2 separate regions of the Homo sapiens genome follow, and region 2 is linked to region 1. Evidence: fine-mapped expression QTL. A gene starts in region 1. The other region holds a variant in brackets. All regions are shown on one strand. Distances are between the middles of the regions. Region 1 holds the start of MKRN2 (makorin ring finger protein 2). Region 2 has its middle 19 kb from the start of RAF1.

What was found. PIP is the estimated chance that this variant, and not a neighbour inherited with it, causes the effect. A credible set is the group of variants that fine-mapping cannot tell apart.
Region 2: its variant is the best candidate, but not a certain one, in a credible set for the expression of MKRN2 in tibial artery (GTEx, PIP 0.56).

What each region holds. Positions count from the first base shown.
Region 1 is chr3:12,554,618-12,559,010 of GRCh38, reverse strand. It overlaps MKRN2 (makorin ring finger protein 2), which reads right to left and starts at 1,924. Exons shown (of 8, transcript NM_014160.5): 1 at 1,835-1,924. The coding sequence starts at 1,860. It also overlaps a transcript of MKRN2OS not described here. RefSeq lists enhancers at 1,205-1,264, 1,174-1,697, 2,085-2,144, 2,195-2,304 and a silencer at 1,825-1,914.
Region 2 is chr3:12,680,485-12,684,877 of GRCh38, reverse strand. No RefSeq gene overlaps it. Among named protein-coding and RNA genes, the nearest start is that of RAF1, 19 kb to the right of the region's middle. The variant G/A (reference allele first, on the strand shown) is at 1,604.

The sequences.
Region 1 (4,393 bases):
ACAGTCTATGAGGGCATGAACTTTGATTTCACACCTCTGTCACTTGGAAGCTAAATGACCTTAGGCAAGTCGCTTCAATGCTGAGGCTCAGTTTTACGATCTGTGGAAGAGCGCTGGTTGCTGGATTATACACTACAGTACCTAAGAGCCGCAGCACATTGTAAGTCCCCAACAAACATGACTAAACACTTAAACAGAAGTGATCCCTTCTCAACATTCCAACCCAATCTTCATTTATATGGAGCAACATCCTACAGAACACCCCTGTTTGGGAAACAGAATTAAAGCTTTCAAGTCAAGCTATCTCCAGGTATACAAGGAAAAAACCAAGATGATCCTGATTTAGGTCCTTGTGCCTCTACTAAGGTGTAAAATTTTAGGCAAATTTCAAGTCTTTCTGAGCATAAGATTCCTTATTTGTAAAATAAGATACTACAGAGTTGAGATTCAATTATAAAGCATTATTACATAAATGTGTACTGTTTTGTGGACACTTCTTAGATGAGGTACGGGAATAAATGGTAGAATTAAACCATAGAGCGAGGGGAGGAATACAGAGGTTTTTCTAGGAGGCTACAAGCTGCTTTACAGTGCACAATGACCTAGGAATACTTCCTCCAGCAGGAGAAACTTTATACAAATAAAAATACGTAAACACACACAAACCCGTCTTCACAAAACACCTTCTAGTACAAATAACCTAGTAAAAGTCTTTTTATAGACACTAGGTGCAAATTTCTGACAACAGCTTAACATAAGCCACCTGGGCCTTGGATAAATTGAACAGTAAATGTACACTAATGCTAACAGAAAACTTACTACACAGTCACGTCTCAACTATTCATACCAATGAAGAGAAGTAACAACATAGAAAATAAACTGTTTATTACACAAACTCTATAACTGTTTTTAAGCAATGTTTCCCATAAAAATTATTAAATGAAATTTGCATTTTCCAAGCATACAATTCAATTTGCGTTTTCCAAACATACAATTCAATAGGACTAGACTCCATTACCAGTAAGCCACAAGCTGACCAAGCAATGAGGGTGTTACACAACCACACTATTCTATTTCATAGGAGCAGTCGTAGTGTAGCTATCTGGCTATTTTCTACAATAAACCATCCATTACCGTCGCATTTCTCCTCGTAAATGGCTCTCTCAGTAAGATAAATGAGTGTCAACGTCTTTCGGTCTCAGTTTCCTGCACTGTAAAATGGTAATAATAACTACTAAGTTGTCTTACTGTGAAGTCTGATGATAATGAATATAAAGGACTTGGAAATATGCAGGGCGCTTCGCCGATATTCACAATATGCTACCTGTCGTTATTTTCCACACAACAACTTTTACTTGTTAACTCTCTGCAAGTTTAGATTGCATCTGGATTCTCCAAACTTTGAGGCCCTCATAATCGATTAACAAATTACTCCTATGTGGTATCCCCATTTGTAACCGTCCTCTCGGCGTCCCTTTACTCAACTTCAAATCTTTTCCAGTTAAAGCGTAAGCCCCAGAGCCTTCCCGACAGCGCCCCGGCATCCTGCACGGCCCTGGCTAGGACGTCCTTCCTCCCAGCCCACAGGGGCCACGCTTCAAACTCGGGGCGTAGCCCCCCGCGCTGGCCTCGCCCAGCGTCTCGGCCACGCATCCCCCGGATCCCCGGCTGTGGCGGCAGCGCTCGCTCTGCCTCGCAAAGCCCCGCCGCGAACAGCCGAGTAACTTTCCGAGTCCCGCTCTAGCCTCAGGTTCCCGGACCACAGCACTGGCGCGCACCGGCCCCCCTGCGGCCTGGGGGAGCGGCCCGAAGCTCCTGGCTCCAGCGCACTGACCTGCAAGTGATCTGCTTGGTGCTCATGGTGGCTGGGCTGAGGGACCGTCGTCGTGCCGCCGCCTCTCGCAGCCGCTGCCGCCTCGGCCTTGGCCCTGGCCCGGCCCATCCCGCGTAGCCGCGTCACGCCGGCGCACGCCGGCGCACGCCGCCCCTCCGGTGTGGCACCTTTGTAGCGCCGGCGGGTAACCTAGCCGTCGTCACAATTGGTTCCGCACCGGGGATCGGGCCGGCTGTCCCGGCATCCCTGCTCTCGGTGTCCCGCACTTCCAAGCCTCCGGGGCGGAGCCTGGCTGGCATCTTAGTCCTGCCAGTCTTATCCCGATGCCTACTGTTAGTGCCTGCGATTCTGCCCCGATCGCCAAGAGTATTCCTTAGGGATCTCCCGCCTCCTTCGAGGCACTTCACCACTCCTGGGGAAACTCCAGCCTCTCCTCTTAATCCCGGATGCCCCTATCCATTCATACTCGCACTCACTGGGCACCCTTCTCAGGCCCTGCCTCAACTGTTCCCGCCGGACCTCGCCTCCCACTTAAGGAAATTCCTTAGCTCTCTCCCAACTGCTCTTTCCCCAAATCTCTACTTCCACAAGTTTTAGTCTTCATTTTCTTTCCTGCCAGTCTTGTGCTGCTCGTCTTCCATTTCCTATGGTGGAAACCCCAAAAGTTATTTTTGACACTTCCCTCTAGCTCTCTATACCCTGCAGATTCTGCTCCCACACCTCTGTCCAATGCGTCCTCTTCTGCCCCCTTTCCACCGTCCCTTCTACCTAGCACCATGCGATACCTTTTTTTTTAATTATTATTATTTTATTTTTTATTTTTTTGAGACGGAGTTTCTCTCTTGTTGCCCAGGCTGGAGTGCAGTGGGGCGATCTCGGCTCACTGCAACCTCCGCCTCCCGGGTTCAAGCGATTCTCCTGCCTCTCAGCCTTCCACGTAGCTGGAATTACAGGCGTGCACGCCTGGCCAGCCATGCGATAGCCTTTTAACTGGTCTTCTGGCTTCCGTTCCTGGTAAAAATCTATTTTTAAAACATAAATCGGATCATGTCATTCACCTTTTAATCTTACAATGGTTTCTCATTGCTTAAAAACTCGAGATACATAACATGCACAATATAAGTGCACCAAACACATTCTATGAATTTTTGCACATGCATACACTCATGAAACTACCACCCAGATCAAAATAAAGAATTTTTTGTTTTGTTTTGAGGCAGGGTCTTGCTCTGTCGCCCAGGCTGGAGTGCAGTGGCGCCATCATAGTTCAAGCAGTCCTCTGCCTTAACCTCCCCAGCAGCTGGGAATACAGGTGCGCGACACCATGCTCGACTAAACTTCAAAATGCTGGAGTAAGGAGAGGTTGAGCCGGAAGGATCCTTTGAGCATAGTTCACTGCAGTCGAGGCTGCAGGGGGTGGGTGGGGGCTGGATATTATCGACACCCCAGAAGGGCTTCCTTATGGTCCTTCCCAGGCAATACTTTACAAAGGTCATTGCTTGGGTTCATCTCTATCACTATAAATTAGTTTAACTGTTCTTGACTTTCATATAAATAATAATTCAGTACCTACGCTTTTGTCTGCCTTCTTTTGACCAACATTTTATCTGTGAGATCTTTCCATGTTATGTATGTATAGCTGTATGTTCTTTTTTTACTTTGCTATAAAAATATTGAGTCTTCCAATGAATGAGCATGGTATATACTTCCAATTATTTAGAACTTTTGAAATTTTTCTCAGGAATTTGGAAGTATACTGGAAATTTTGTTTTCAGTGTCTTGAATATTGCATTTTAACTCATAACACATTTGATCCATGCAATTCATGCTCATAAAAATTACACGTCTTTTTTTTTTTTTTTTTTGAGACGGAGTCTTGCTCTGTCACCCAGGCTGGAGTGCAGTGGCATGCTCTTGGCTCACTGCAACCTCCACCTCCCGTGTTCAAGCGATTCTCCTGTCTCAGCCTCCGGAGTAGCTGGGATTATACAGGCGCACGCTGCCACGCCCAGCTGATTTTTTGTGTTTTAGTAGCGACGGGGTTTCACCCTGTTGCCCAGGCTGGTCTCGAACTTCTGAGCTCAGGCAATCCACCCGCCTCGGCCTCCCAAAGTGCTGGGATTACGGGCGAGAGCCACCGCGCCCAGCCCATGCCACTTATTTTTAAAATTCAGCTTATCTCATTCTTTATGGAATACATTCACGATCTGAACGTTATTATGTTCAAATATTTTAAAAGCGTAAAGTGAAAAGTCTCAGTCTCCTGTCAATTTAGTTCCCGCCTCTTCAAAACAAAAAGCAGAAACATTTTTTAAAACCTCAAAACCTGGCCACTGTTATCAAATTTGTATACATCTTTCCAGAATTTCTTTAAATATACACAAGTAAATACATATATATTATTTTCTCCTTTTTGTAGAAAAGATAACATAACGTACTGTTCTGCACAGCGTACATAATCAGTGGAGATTTTTCCATATCAGTACATAGAGCCTCTTCCTCCTTTCGTAGAACTGTATAGTATTCCGTTGTACGACTATGCCATAAGTTATTTCATCA
Region 2 (4,393 bases), 130 kb before region 1:
ACTACCTGCCAGGTATGGTGGCTGACACCTGTAATCCCAGCACTTTGGGAGGTCGAGGCAGGCGGATCACGAGGTCAAGAGATCGAGACCATCCTGGCTAACATGGTGAAACCCTGTCTCTACTAAAAATACAAAAAATTAGCCAGGCGTGATGGCGGATGCCTGTAGTCCCAGCTACTTGGGAGGCTGGGGCAGGAGAATCACTTGAACTCGGGAGGCGGAGTTTGCGGTGAGCCAAGATCGCGCCACTGCACTCCAGCCTGGGTGACAGAGCGAGACTCCGTCTCAAACAAACAAACAAACAAACAAAAAACCAGCCGGGCGCGGTGGCTCACACCTGTAATCCTAACACTTTGGGAGGCCGAGGCGGGCAGATTACCTGAGCTCAGGAGTTCGAGACCAGCCTGGGCAACATGGTGAAACCCCATCTCTACTAAAACGCAAACAAACAAACGAACAAAAAATTATCCGGGCGTGGAAATGTGCGACTGTAGTCCCAGCTACTCGGGAGGCTGAGGCAGGAGAATTGCTTGAACCCAGGAGGTGGAGGTTGCAGTAAGCAGAGATCGTGCCACTGCACTCCTGCCTGGCGACAGAACAAGACTCTGTCTCAAAAAAAAAAAAAAAGAGCTGGATCTCCATCCAGGCCAGAGAAGCTTCTCACAGACGGTTTTCAACTCTAAGAAATAAATTGGTTTGGTAATAAATGGCTTCTAGTCAGATAAAATATAGTAATAATAAAATAAAAATAATAATTCCAGAGTTCTCACAATGTACTGAATCTGGTCTGATGAAGCCTCTCCAACGTGAACCCCTGTGAATCCACAACAGCCTCAGAGGCTGTGGGGCAAAGCAAGCCACCTGAGGAATGAATAGCGGAAGAAAGACTAAAGGCAGTGGGCAGCCTTTTACACCCATTGGTCTTTGGGGCTCGGAACACTCCTTCAGTTCATAGACTCCCTCCTCCTGAAAGCGTGTGCATAACTCCCAGTGATTTCCACATGTGGTCTGAAGGGAACGCTCTTCAGAAGGAGAAGACATGAGCTTCACTGAATGTCAATATTCAGTTTCCGGAGAGAAAATCAACAGCTAACGGCCGGGGCATCTATTAGGGCTCTGCTATCGGCGATAGAAAAACTAACTTAATTGTTTTAAGTACAAAAAGGGGGAATGTAATCTGCATGGAACTGAAAAGCCCAGGTCTGGCTGTTGGAGGTCTGGCTGGTTTCAGTGCTCAACAGAGGTTGAAGGACCCCGCGGAATCCATTCTCGGGCCCTGTGAACTCCAGGCTCTGTTGTTTTTTTTTTTTTTTTTGAGACACAGTCTCGCTCTGTCGCCCAGGCTGGAGTGCAGTCGTGCGATCTCGGCTCACTGCAAGCTCCGCCTCCCGGGTTCACGCCATTCTCCTGCCTCAGCCTCCCAAGTTGCTGGGACTGCAGGCGCCCGCCACCACGCCCGGCTTTTTTTTTTTTTTCCTCTTTTTTTTTTTGTATTTTTTTTTTTTAGTAGAGACGGGGTTTCACCGTGTTAGCCAGGATGGTCTGGATCTCCTGACCTCGTGATCCGCCCGCCTCGGCCTCCCAAAGTACTGGGATTACAGGC[G/A]TGGGCCACCGCTCCCGACCCAGGCTCTGCTCTCATTGTATAAAGGTGGCTGAGGGCCGGGCGCAGTGGCTCACGCCTGTAATTCTAGCACTTTGGGAGGCCGAGGTGGGTGGATTCTCTGAGCTCAGGAGTTGGAGACCAGCCTGGATAAAACGGTGAAACCCTGTCTCTACCAAAATACAAAAAATTAGCTGGGAATGGTGGCGTGCACCTGTAATCCCAGCTACTCGGGAGGCTGAGACAGGAGAATCACTTGTACCTGGGAGGGAGGTTGCAGTGAGCCGAAATGGCACCACTGCACTCCAGCCTGGGTGACAGAGCGAGACTCCATCTCAAAAAAAAAAAAAAAAAAAAAAAAAGTGGCAGACACAGCTCCAGCCTTTCCTCCCCTCCCAGTTCAAGTCCATGGGAAAGCCCAGAAGGCTTATTTGGAAGCTTCCTCTAAAACCTGAGACTCACTGTGATTGGATCCGTTGAGTCATGTCTCCATCCCTCAACCAATCACAGTGGCCTGTGCCTGAGTCACAGCTTTCATTCCTGGCACCAGGGGAGAGTCCCAGCCAAATAGCAGGGTCTGAGAGTAGGGGAGAAGTGGGTCCCCAAACGTTTCTTAGGATAAGAAGAAAAGGCAAACAATGAAGTCCTCTGTAACCGACTACTTCAATTGAGGCATGGGGCCTGAGATGGATAACCCAGGTGCTTCCCAGCCCCTTCCACTGGGCCTGTATTTCACCAAACTTAGGCACTCAACAAACCAAACTACTTACATTTTCTTGCACACACACACTGTATAAGTGATCTATTGCTGTGTAACAAATTATTCTAAAACTCAGCAGCTAAGACAAGCATTTACTATCTCATGCAGATTATGAGAGTTCAATTCAGCAGGGGCTTAGCTGGTGGCTCTGGCTCAAGGTCTCTCATGAGGTCATAGTCAAAAAATAAAAGCTGAGGTTGCAGTCAGTGGGGACCATGGTATCTGAAGGCTTGATGGGCTTGAAGAATCTGCTTGTGTGACTATTGGCAAGCGGACTCAGTTCCTCATCATGTGGGTCTCTCTGTAGGACTGCCTGTGACTTCCTTCAGCACAAATGATCCAAAAAAGAAAGAGATAGAAGATAGAAGAAACAGGAAAAAATCTTGGGTGAAGTTCCTTTTTTTTTTTTGGCAGCATTGCACACAGTCTTTTAGAACTAGCCTTGGAAGTGACACAACACCACTTCTGTGGTATTCTATTGGTCATGCAGACCAACCCTGACAAAATATGGCAGGGAATTTCACAAGCTGTGAATACAGGAAGTGGGGATCACAGGCAGTCATCTTGGCTACCATGAAGAGTGCCAACTCCTGCCTCTGTGTGTATCTTTACTTGCCCTGTTTCTTCTGCCTGTCTTTCCTCATCTCCTTCCCTTGGAGAATTTCACTTTTGATTTCATTCCTGAACACACTCCTCCTCCAGGAGGCCCTCCCTTCCCACTTATCCAGTCATTCCCTCTCCAAGGAACACTGACACGTAGATAGACTACTATGTTTCAAAGCCTTGCCTGGGCCTGTAATTCATTTGTTCTTCTCCACACTGCACAATGAGGCCCTCAAGGGCAGGGACTCTGCTGGGCATCTCTACATCACCAGTAGCTGGTGTGGCCTCCAGCATGAGGGTGAACTGTAGATAATGGAGAGTGAAAGGGAGAACTGACAGGATTGTCCATATCATTTCAGCAAAACAAAACAACACAAGCACATCTTTGGTCCTGATTATCTGGCTTTCATTCTCCCTTTGGAGCCAGCCAATGTGAGCCAATGAAGGAAACTGTATCAATTTTAGACTGGATGTGGTGACAATGAAATAACCAGAAATTAAAGTGTTAGTCATCCAATAAGCCTTGTTCCTTTAAGGTTCATCTTAAGGCTAAAGCCACAGTTTCTCTTCTGTCTTAGCTAACAGTGAAATAAGTATACATTAAGCACCAACTATATGCTCAGTACTACACGCTGCGGGATGGGGGCGGTAGAATATACCATAATAAGGCCCTTATCCCAGAGACTAAGAAAGACCTAAGCCATTACATTTTTTTGAAGCTCCTGAGATTTTTTTTTATTTTTTATTTTTTTTTTAGAGATGGAGTCTTGCCCTGTTGCCCAGACTGGAGTGCTGTGGTGCAATCTTGGCTCATTGCAAACTCTGCCTCCCAGGTTCAAGTGATTCTCCTGCCTCACCCTCCCAAGTAGCTGAGACTACAGGAGTACACCACCACGCCAGGCTAATTTTTTGTATTTTTAATAGAGATGAAGTTTCACCATGTTGGCCAAGCTGGTCTCGAACTCCTGACCTCAAGTGATCCACCCGCCTCGGCCTCCCAAAGTGCTGGGATTACAGGCGTGAGCCACCACCCCCGGAATTTCCTGGTATTTTTTTTAAATGTAGAAATTCCAAAATAGGTATTAAAAAATGGTGATGGGCCAGGTGCGGTGGCTCAAGCCTGTAATCACAGCACTTTGGGAGGCAAAAGAGGGCAGATCAGGAGGTCAGGAGTTCCAGACCAGCCTGACCAATATGGTGAAATCCCGTCTCTACTAAAAATACAAAAATTAGCCGGGCGTGGTGGCATGTGCCTGTAATCCCAGCTACGCGGGAGGCTGAGGCAGGAGAATCCTTTGAAGCCAGGAGGCGGAGGTTGCAATGAGCTCAGATGGAGCCACTGCATACCAGCCTGGGCAACAGAGCCAGACTCCGTCTCAAAACAAAACAAAACAACTGATGATGAAGGCTGGGCGTGGTGGCTCACGCCT